Linked DNA regions of Homo sapiens: region 1 is linked to region 2. A link means that fine-mapping ties the variant in region 2 to the expression of a gene that starts in the linked region. Tissue or cell type: whole blood. Region 2 holds a variant in brackets; the other region holds the start of a gene. All regions are shown on one strand. Distances are between the middles of the regions.

Evidence for each region.
Region 1: it holds the start of SARDH, and the variant in region 2 is fine-mapped to the expression of SARDH in whole blood (TOPMed, PIP above 0.99).

The regions. Positions count from the first base shown.
Region 1 is chr9:133,736,249-133,741,608 of GRCh38, forward strand. It overlaps SARDH (sarcosine dehydrogenase), which reads right to left and starts at 2,104. Exons shown (of 21, transcript NM_001134707.2): 1 at 2,006-2,104.
Region 2 is chr9:133,701,023-133,706,382 of GRCh38, forward strand. It overlaps SARDH (sarcosine dehydrogenase), which reads right to left. Exons shown (of 21, transcript NM_001134707.2): 12 at 3,926-4,009; 13 at 1,894-2,007. Among named protein-coding and RNA genes, the nearest start is that of SARDH, 35 kb to the right of the region's middle. The variant T/C (reference allele first, on the strand shown) is at 2,733.

The sequences.
Region 1 (5,360 bases), 35 kb after region 2:
CCCCGCCTGGAATCCTCTCTCTCCCAGGGTGCATCCGCACCTAACTTTCAAAATGTTCTTTTTCTTTTGCAATAAATTGCTCTATGTTGCAGCTCTTTTGCTGTGTGTCTCATGTTTAAATTCTGTTTTGTTGTTGTTGTTGTTGTTTGTTTGTTTGTTTGTTTTGAGAAAGAGTCCCACTCTGTCTTCCAGGCTGGAGTGCAGTGGCATGATCTTGGCTCACTGCAACCTCTGCCTCCTGGGTTCAAGCGATTCTCCCACCTCAGCCTCTCGAGTAGCTGGGATTATAGGTGCATGCCACCATGCCTGGCTAATTTTTGTATCTTTAGTAGAGACAGGGTTTCACCATGTTGGCCAGGCTGGTCTCGAACTCCTGACCTCAGGTGATCCGCCTGCCTCGGCCTCCCAAAGTGCTGGGATTACAGGCATGAGCCACTGTGCCCAGCCTAAATTCTTTAAACTAAGAAGTTAAGAACGGAGGTCTCACAACAGCCCTCAATGGAAGGGTGGGGTGGTGTCCTGCCCAGTGTGGACCTCCACTGCCCTTTTCTGGGATCTGCAGGAAAAGTGAAAGGGATGTGGCTGTGATCCAAGATGTGAAGTGCTGTGCCACCTACGTCAGTATGAATGACTGATATAATTATCTAAGAAAGTCAGCATCCTTTTTCAAGAGTGGACCATAGCTATGCACGTTCGTTCACTCTCATTGAACACCTATAGACACATGATAATGTCTCTACTTCACAGCGGGGGAGTCTGACACACGGAGAGGCTCCCTGAGGTGACCAGGGTCATAGGGCCTCCATGTGGCAGTGCCAGGGACTCTCTCCTGCCCCCTCTTCTGACCATCCCAGGGGGACTCAGGACCCACTGCCACACTCTGTCCCACCTGAACTGTGGGCACTGCCCAAGCCCTGACGAAGCCCAGAACCCTGTCCTAGGCACAGTGGGGGATGTGAGGGGGATCCCAGCTCTCAGGCTGGTCAGGGCTGCCCCCCATCTCCTGCCCCAGTGCCCCATCCCAAGGGAGGGAGCAGGGAGTCTGATTGCAGCGGCGTAGGGGAGTGAGGAGGTGTTGGAGCTTGTCCTCAGCCTCTCAGCCCTCAGTGTGTCAGCCCGCCTGGCTCCTGCCTGCAGAGGTGGCCCCGGACAAGGAGGCATGCCTCCTGCATGTGTCTGTACATACCTTCAGTCCTTGAAGGTCCACAGTCTTCCAGGAGCCCCCAAAAGTGGTGCCCCACCAGGGGAAAGCCAGCTTGAGTGGCACCGAGGAAGGCCCTCCAAGGCTGAACACCCCCACCCCACCACCCACCACCCACCACGGTGCCGCATGGCACAGCACACCTGGTCAGCTGTGGGCAAAAGCCTCCCTCCTCCTTCCGACTGTGCCCAAAAAGCGACAGCTGCTGGCGCCGGAGGCTGCCACGTGCCCCTTCACCACCTGCCTGGTCAGTCAGGGCTCTTCTGACTGTCAGACTGGGGGCTGGCAGCGGCCCCAGCGGGGACAGCCCAGAGCCCCTCCTGCCTGCCACCTCCCTGGAAACAGCTGCCTCCACATTAACCCACTCTCTTGCCCCCTCCAACTCTGTCTCGTACCTGAGTCAGCTTCCCAGGAGTGAGGGCTGAGGACAGCCCTGGGCTTGGGATCAGACAGATGGGTGGGGGTTTTGTCACAGGACTGGGGCCTCGAGCAACAACTTAACCTCACTGCAAAGCAGAGGACCCAGGAACGCCCTCCTCCTCCCAGGCTCAGGGGGTGGTGGGGGTCAAGCGAGGAGAGCGCCTGGCACCTTCGCCTGGTGAGGGTAGGCAGACTTGTGGGGAGGAGCGGCAGGGGGCGGGGAGGCAGCTGCCCATATGGTGAACCCTGGTCCTGCTCATGCAGCTGGATGGTCCCTGCAGCCAGAGGCAGAGGGAGATCCCAGCCAGATCTGACCAGGCCCAGCCCCGCCCACATAGGGGAGGCCCCAGCCTCGTCCCTCCCTGGGGGTGTACCTCCAAGTACCTCTTGTCAGCTGCAGTGCCCCTCGGCCCTAAGAGTGCTTGGCCCAGCAGAGGTGCCTTCACCTTCTTGCTTCCCAAGCAGTGGCCTGGCCGGAACTCCAGGCCTCCCCCGCCCCCCACCCTCGCTGCCAGCCCCATGTCTCCGCCCAGGATCTGGGCGGAGCGTACCGCCCACCACTGCGGCTTCTAGGCCAGCTTAGTTGGGGCTTCTAGGCCAGCCCTGTGGGCAGCTCCCTCTGAGGGCGGCAGAGCAGGGTTGTGAACCCCATGCCCCATTACCCGTAGGCGACCTGGCAGTCACCCTTCCGCTCCAACCCTCATTTCCTCGTCTCTGAAACAGGCGCCTCAGGGTTGCTGCAGTAGACCCAGGCACCACCTGCCTGCTGGAGCCGCCCGAGCTCCCCGCGCCCAGAAGGAGCTATGCACAGGCAGGGTGGGCAGGAAAGGTGGGGTCAGCAGCAGCTTGGGCCAGGGGCCCGTCCACTGCAGGGAGGCTCCTTTGGTGAGGTCATCTCAGCACATGCCCCAGTTTGCTCACCCCCAGGGACAGGATGCTCACTGCCTTCAGAGGCGAGTGAGAAGGCCTGGGTCAGCTTCCCAGGGACAGGGTCTCCTGGTCTGTCTGCGTCCTGCTTTCCCGAGCTCCCAGACCCCTCTGGTGTTTGGGGAGATGCCCCCAAGCCACTGGCTACTGCACAGCACGTAGCCCCCAGGGCAGGGATTCCAGCCTCCATTGACTGTTGGGGACAGCAGTGCCCAGGGAGGGGGCCACACAGCAAGCTGGTGGAGGAGGCAGACCGGATGCTGCAGCCTGACTCTGGGCTGGGGCAAGTTACCCCTTCCCAGACAGAAGTAGACACCCAGAGGAGGGGTGTGGAGGAAACCCAGAAAGAATACACCTCTGGATGCCCAAAGAATCAGAACAGGTGCTGATGGAAAGTCACATCTCCTCCTCGCGCTGGATCAAAGACGGGGCATTTCAATGGCAGTCTGTTAATATTGTAATGATGCCAGCTGCCAATACCGGAAGCGATCGTATAGTAAACTGCTGTAATTAATACCAATCAAATCATTGTGTTCTTATTCACACCGAGGATGTCCGACTGTCTTGTTGCCAGCTTGTCTATCCTCTACATTTACTGAATGCCCAATGTGTACAAAGCACTGCTGGGAAACCTATAGTGACATCTAAGACCCAGCCCCTGCCCTCGAGGGGCTCAGGGTCCACGAAGCAGACAGATCCAGGGAGAGACACGACACCACAAGGCTGGCTTCCTTCCAGCAGGGAATCCAGGAGGACCTCTTAGAGGAGGGGGCCTGGGCTCTGGGCCTGACCACGTGCTGACACCATTCTCAGTCCCTGCCTCAAAGGCAAAGGGCCCACTGGCTTAGGCCCCTGGCTGCCCAGTGGAAAGCTGGCCCCGCCAGTTTGAGGCTTACCTGGGGTGGTGTGGGGGTCCTGGGGCAGAGGACCTCCTCTTTGGATGGTGTGGCTTGCCCAGTGGCCTGAGCTAGGGCTGTGCTCACCCAACAGGGTGACGAATGAGCTCAAGAGGGCAAGGAAGGAGTGTGGCCCAAGTTCTCCCAGGAGTCCTGGACGTGCAAGTGCATGGGAGAAAAACGCAGCAGTCACCACAGCTCCAGGGCAGTGGCCGGGTAGCCCACACTTCTCCTGTCCCTGCACTCAAAGACAAGTTGCAACTGTTGCAAAACTGTTACAAGCCAAGAGGGCAGCACAATGAACCTGCACTTTGGACAAGGGGTGGTGGCTGGGGGCCGGTCCCGGCCTGTTAGCTGTCTGTTAGTATCGTAGGATTTTCATCCGGCAGGGCCTGTTAGCACCCAGCTCCGGTCTGGGAGAGGTGGAAAGGCTGTCTCCCCCCAGGGACTAGTAGTCACAGCTCTGGAGAGGCCAGGCTCCGGACAAGGAGGCCAAGACAGGGTCCTGTACGATCTCGGGCTGGTCTTATCACCTCTCCCTTTGCTGAGACTTAGTTTTCCCATCTTGGAACAGGAGGCTGGAAGCCCTGCCATGTCAGTTTCACAGAAGCCTTGTAAATTTCCCTGAGTAAATTTCCTTCAGTCCTGCTCTAGATCACACCAACAGAGGGGCTGCCACCTCAAAGAAGTCACCCCACCAGGGATAAAATCTACTTGATCACGGTGCATGATCTTTTTAATGTGCTGTTGAATTTGGTTTGCTAATTTTTTTTTTTTTTAGACGGAGTCTTGCTCTGTCGCCCATGCTGGAGTGCGGTGGCACGATCTCGGCTCACTGCAACCTCCGCCTTCCCGGTTCAAGCGATTCTCCTCCCTCAGCCTCCCAAGTAGCTGGGATTACAGGCACGCACCACCGTGCCCAGCTAATTTTTTGTATTTTTAGTAGAGACGGGGTTTGACCATGAATGGCCAAGCTGGTTTCGAACTCCTGACCTTAAGTGATCCCCCCACCTCGTCCTCCCAAAGCGTTAGGATTACAGGTGTGAGCCACCGCGCCCAGCTGGTTTGCTAATATTTTGAGAGGATTGTTGCATCTATGTTCATCAAGGATATCGGTCTATAATTTTCTTTCTTGTAATGTTATCTGGCTTTGGTATCAGGGTAATGCTGGTCTCGTAAAATGAGTATGACTCTATGTTTAGTGCACTCTGAAGAAAACTGTGGTGCAAATCAAAGTCACAGTTGACTCTACATTCAGGAGTGAGGGGCTGCCTCCAGGTTCACTGCCCTCCCCAGCCTCCCCGCCACCGCTCCAGTGGGGACTGTGGTAGACTTGTTCCTCTGCCCTCATGGCCTGGACATACCTGAGCCAACCCCAAGACTCTTCCTCTGGCTCAGGCTGGCCCTCTCTGCAGGCCCCCACCAGCCCTTGGCCCCGACTTGCTGGCCAGGCTTCCAGGACAGAGAGAGGTGCCTGCAGGCTGCCCTCTGACGGGGCAGAAGTCCAGGGAGGAAGAAGCGGAGGCGTTGGGGGAGGAGGCTCCTCCACCGAGCTCTGCGTGCAGCCCTGTGAAAGAGGACATGAGCAACAGCATCCCAACCCAAACTATAAGAGCCAACATCACCACTGACCAGGAGGAAGGCAGTGCCCCAGTCACCTCTGAGGGCCTCCTGGGAGTCAGGCAGCGTGCTAAAGGCTTCACACGTGTCATCTCAAATGAGACAGCAACAACTGCTACCCATCGTGGAGATGGGAAAACTGAGGGAGAACACAGCCAACAGGTGCCAGACCCAGGTGATTCATGGGCCAGGGAAATTTCCAGAACAATTTTCAAGGGCTGAATTTACACTGCCAAGATTTTATTTTTTCAATAAGAACCTGAAAAAGAAAACTACCACTGAATATCCCCGTGATT
Region 2 (5,360 bases):
CTCATATTACCCCTCACATACTCAGGGAGGCCAGGGATGGTGGCACAGCCAGGCAGTGGCAGAGTTATGGTCCAGCCAGGCTGTGCAGGGGTGCACTGACCCTGACAGCTGGTCAGGCAGATCCCTGCCCAGCTCCACATTCAGTGATGCCTCATTGGCGGACTGGATTGAAATCAGCCATGGAGAAAGCATTTACATCAGGGAAATTGGCCGGTGCTACAGAGCCAGCTTCCTCCCCTCTGCCCCAGAGAGCTGGTTGTTAAGCTGTTACCAGCACACCACAGGGACCATCTGCCTCCTGAGCTCTCCATGGCTTCTCCAGCCCCACCAGGCATCACTGTCCTTCAGGACAGGGCTCCCCTTTGTCGGTTTCTGCTGTACCTTTGCTGATGCCACCGGGGCTGCCAACCAAAACCCTCAGCAGCCTCCCGCGCTGGGCTCCTCTAGCAGGCCGGGGAAGCTGCCAGCGCCAAGAACAAGCACGTGTTTCGTGCTTTAGGACGGCTTCAGGCGCGTTTGCGGAGGCCGGATGAAGCCACAAAGCCAAGTTGGCATCTCCCCCGAGCTCCCACATCCTCGAGGGCCAGAGTCCCACAGGCTTTAGAAGCTGTGGGTGCGGAGGTGCCAGACGGAGCCCCGAGCACTCCCTGGGAGGCAGCGACAAGGGACTCGGGCACTGAGCCGGCCCTGCTGCTGCGGCGCTTCATGACACACACGCCTCCTCCTTCCTGCAGGAGCCCCCTCTTCCGACGCCTTGAACAGATGTTCCACCACTAGAGCAAGCTTTCGGGGAGATGGTGGAAATGAACGGTTTATTCCCTTCAGAACTGGCTACAGAACCCAGTGCGGGACCCAGTGGGGACCTTGCTCAAAGACCATGAAGAGTCTCAAGGCACTGACAGCACAGCATGAACCCAAGCGGGGCCCTTCAAGGCAACGGACGACCGCAGGGTCAGACCCTACCCAAGCCGGACTTGCGACTGGCCTAGAGGCCCCAGGAAGGAACCCCCTCGTGGATGCCTCCTAAGCTGTCCCTGGGCTCTGAGACTCTGGGCTCAGGCCTTGGCTCTGCTCCTATGTCAGATTCGCAGTGAGGTGTCACGCGTCTCCCTGGGGTGGCACGGGGACAACAGCTGTGCTCCACCTGTGAGCACTTTACAACACGACTGGGCAGGCCAGGGCAGACGCTGGCCTCGCTCCTTCCCGGACAGCTGCGGGGGAGAACGCCCCTGTGTGGTGCAGGCTGCTGCGGGGGAGAAGACCCCCAAGACTCCTCACCTCCACCCCCTGCACGTGGGAGCCAGGTCCCCAGGCAGGGGCGACGGGCTGCCAGCTGCCCCGTGTGAGCAGCCTCGCCTGCCCACTTTGGAGCCAGAGGAACAGCAAGCAGGCTCCAGGCCACGGCCCTCCCGGCTCTGGTTCCCTCTGCTTGTCCCTTGGAGGGGCCCATACGGGGCCTGATGCCCAGGAGCCTGCGGCCCCCTTGTCCTGGATCTACTCTGCGCTGGCTTCCAGGAGGGAGGACCCCCTTCCCCCACCACGTCTCATGCCAGCCTCGGCGCAGCTCCGGAGAGCGGGAGGCGGAGGCTCAGAGCGGTGCAGCCCCACCGGGCCCCAGCCCGTTGCCTCCGCCCCCACCTCACCCCATCCCCAGCAGCACCACTTCCGCTCAGGCCTGGCTGCTGGCAAAATCTCGGCACAGAGGGAGGAGGGGGAGAGGAAAACGCATGATTCCTCCTCAAAATGGAGTCAGCCGAAAAAAGCGTGAATGCAGAGCCCGAAGAGACTCCTGGGGGAGGGGAGCCCCTGCAGGGCCAGCCGAGGGCCGGCGCAATGGCTTATCTGAGGGACAGGCAGAAGGACGGACCCCCACGGTGGACCCCAGCTACGCACCGTGTCGTGGTGGGGCGGGAAGGCGAAGGTGTACTCGTCTGCCAGCAGCCTGCGGTAGGCGTAGTCCTCGTGCGCGCGGCTCCCGTAAGCCCCGTAGTAGTCGTACTCGAGGACCTGGGAAGAAAAGACGTGGTCCTCAGCCTGCCTCTTTGGCCCCTCCCCGCTTCCCTCCCCAGAGCGGGGTCCCGCTGAGGCTGTGATGGGGTCAGGCCTGGCCCTGCCCTCGGAGAGCCCTGCACTGAGTGCCCGTGTGTTGTGGACGCGGGCAGGGGGCCCCCATGAGGTCCAGGCAAAACAGAGGCACAAAGGAGGCCGCAGGGTTGCCTGGTGGGTCTGAGAGCCCAGCCAGGGCCCAGGAGGCTGGAGGAGGAGCTGGATGCACCCAAGGTGGGGAACGACAGGGAGAGGTGGTTACCCAGGACCTCAGCCAGGGCTGCTCCCTGGAGCCACGGCAATCCCAGGCCCAGCTCCTGCTCTGGGCCAGCCCCTGCGGGAAGCGTCTTACACTCCTACCAGGTGTGCCCCTTTCTACAGATGAGGAAAGTGAGGCGCAGAGAAGTTATATCTCGCCCAAGGGCACAGACAAGTCCTGGACCTGGCAGTGGCACGAAGCCAGGCAGGTGCGTGGGCTCCAGAGTCCAGCTTTTCTGCCACTGCCTTGGCCTCCCTGGGATCTGCCCCCATCAGACACCCCACAGCCCCACAGCCCCATGCCCCTCCCTGGCCGCTGCTCCTGCAGACAACCCCCCACCCCGCCACCTGCCCTCCTAACTGCCGACACGGCACAGCTGTGAATGCAGGTGTGGGCAATTCTTAACCTCCCAGGGCTGCCAGCCCCG[T/C]CCGCCCAAGCCTCACCTCCTCTTCACACACAAGTGGGAGCCAGTGTGAGGTTGTAAGGGAGTCAGGCTTTGCTGGCATCTCTGCATGGAGTACCCCCCTCCCCAGCAGGGACATCCCACCCACTGCAGCCCTGCCAAGGTGTCCTGGACACCCAGGCTGGCTCCCGGGTGGGGGTGCAAAATCCGCCCATCTTGGGACCTGGGGTGTGTTCCTGACTCTCCTCTCCTCGCCCAGGGACAGGGGAGAGGGGCTTCCAGGGCCAGATCTGACTGGAACACAGTGGGTTGCACTTCAAGACAGGGTCTGCCCAGACCCCTCCTCCCCGCAGGGTTCATGAGGACGGCATGTCCCTAGGGGCCAGCAGGAGAAGAGACGATGACCTGCAAGGCTCTGACCCCAGAGCCGTGGCCCCGTTAGCCAGCTCTGGCTCTCATCTCCCCTCCCGATGCCCTGGAGCTCTGGAGCCTGGCCTGGGCTGTGGGTTGCCATGGGGATGGAAGGTGGGTGCACCAGAGGGGACTGGTGAGACGCAGCCCCGGGAAGGGGATTTCGATTTCTGTAAATCTGGATCAAATGCTACCCCTCAGCTGGCCTTAAGGCCTCGCGTCCCCTGCTCCCGAGGGTCTGGGTCCCAGGTTTCACAGCAGGACTGCCTTTGTTCCTCTCACTGAGGACCCAGGTCCCTGGGAGTCCCCAGAGGACGCCCAGAGTCCAGGCCACTGTGAAACCTCCACTGGGAAACTGAGCACCCTGGGTGCATCAACCTGCCCAGTGCCTGCCCTCCTACGGACATAAACCAACAGTCGGAGTGGCCAAAAATAGATGCACAGAATTAGGAGACGCTCCATTCCTCCTGCAACCTGGGGGAGTCTTCTTGCTGTCTCCCCACCGCAGGACACCCCTTCTGCTCTGCCTACAGCCCTTCCCACTTAGGCCATGGAAGGCCTGGCCACAGCGGACGGGTAGTGGGGAGGACGAGGAGTGGGAATTGCGTGAACGGCACAAAGAATGCACTGAGCCTTGGGGGCAGGTCGGCAGGGCTCGGCTTCCCGTGTGCAGAATAACTGATCACGACAGTGGAACCACCTGGGGAGGCGGGGCACACGGAGGGGCAAGGACGGGGCACGTGGAGGGGCAAGGGGGTTGTCAGGGCAGGGCCTCCCAGCAGCACAGCCCAGCAGGCACTACTCACCGGAGCTGGGCCTCGGGGATGAAACCATCCCGGTCGCTCCCAGCCATGCCGCTCCTGGAACACGCAGCCTTGTCCAAGGAGTTCCTGAGCAGGAGTGGGGAACAGGCATCTGTCACGCATGGCCTGATACCCCTGCGCAGGGCAGAGAGCCACATCCGCCACTTTACACCCAAGGGTGCGGAGAGCAAGGAGGCCCTGACTCTTGGAACCAGGCCTCCAGCCCAGTGTTTGCAGCTACCCTCACTGCCTCACCCTGAGAACCCCTATGTGTAGAATTACCACCTGCCCCATCTGCCCTCACCCTGAGAACCCCCATCTATAGAATTACCACCTGCCCCATCTGCCCTCACCCTGAGAACCCCCATCTATAGAATTACCACCTGCCCCATCTGCCCTCACCCTGAGAACCCCCATCTATAGAATTAATTACCACCTGCCCCATCTGCCCTCACCCTGAGAACCCCCATCTATAGAATTAATTACCACCTGCCCCATCTGCCCTCACCCTGAGAACCCCCATCTATAGAATTACCACCTGCCCTGATCTGCTCTTGCCCCAGGAATCCCATCTATAGACTTACCGCCTGCCCCATCTGCCCTCACCCTGAGAACCCCATCTGTAGAATTATCACCTTCCCCTATCTGCCCTCATCCTGAGAACCCCCAGCTACAGAATAGCACCTGCCCCATCTGCCCTGGCCCCGATAACCATCATCTGTAGAATTACCACCTGCCCTGATCTGCCTTGGCCCTGAGAACCCCCATCTGTAGAATTACCATCTGCTATGGACGGAATCACATCCCCACATAAATTCGTATGTCAAAGCCCTGACCCTGACGTGACTCTATTTGGAGATGGGATCTTTAGGTTAAATGAGGTCATCAGGGTGGGTCCTAATCCCATACGGCTGGAGCCCTTATAGGAGGAGGAAGCGACGCCAGGGCCCTCTCCCCGCTGCATGAGGACAGTGAGAAGGTGGCCGACTACAAGCCAGGAGAGCCCTCTCCAGGAACCCATCGTCTGACACCTTGATCTTGGACCTCCCAGTCTCCAGAAATGTGGGGAAAAAAAAGTTCTGCTGAAACCTCTCCACTTGTGGCCTTTTGCTGTGGCTGCCCTAGCAGAAAGATGCACCATACGACCCAGCAATTCCACTCCCAAGTATGCACAAGAGAACTGAGAGCGGGGTTGTAAACAAATTCCGTTCACGCATGTTCACTGAGCTCTATGCGCAACCACTAACCAGGGGAGAGAACCCCCGTGGCCCTCAGCTGATGAGTGGATCAACAAAGCATGGTCTGCATACACCATGGAATATTATTCAGCCATAAAAAGCAACGAAATTTGGACACATTTTATCACAGGATGAACCTTGAAAACATGCTACAGGAATGAAGCCAGACACAAAAGGTCATGTATTGGATGATTCCAGCA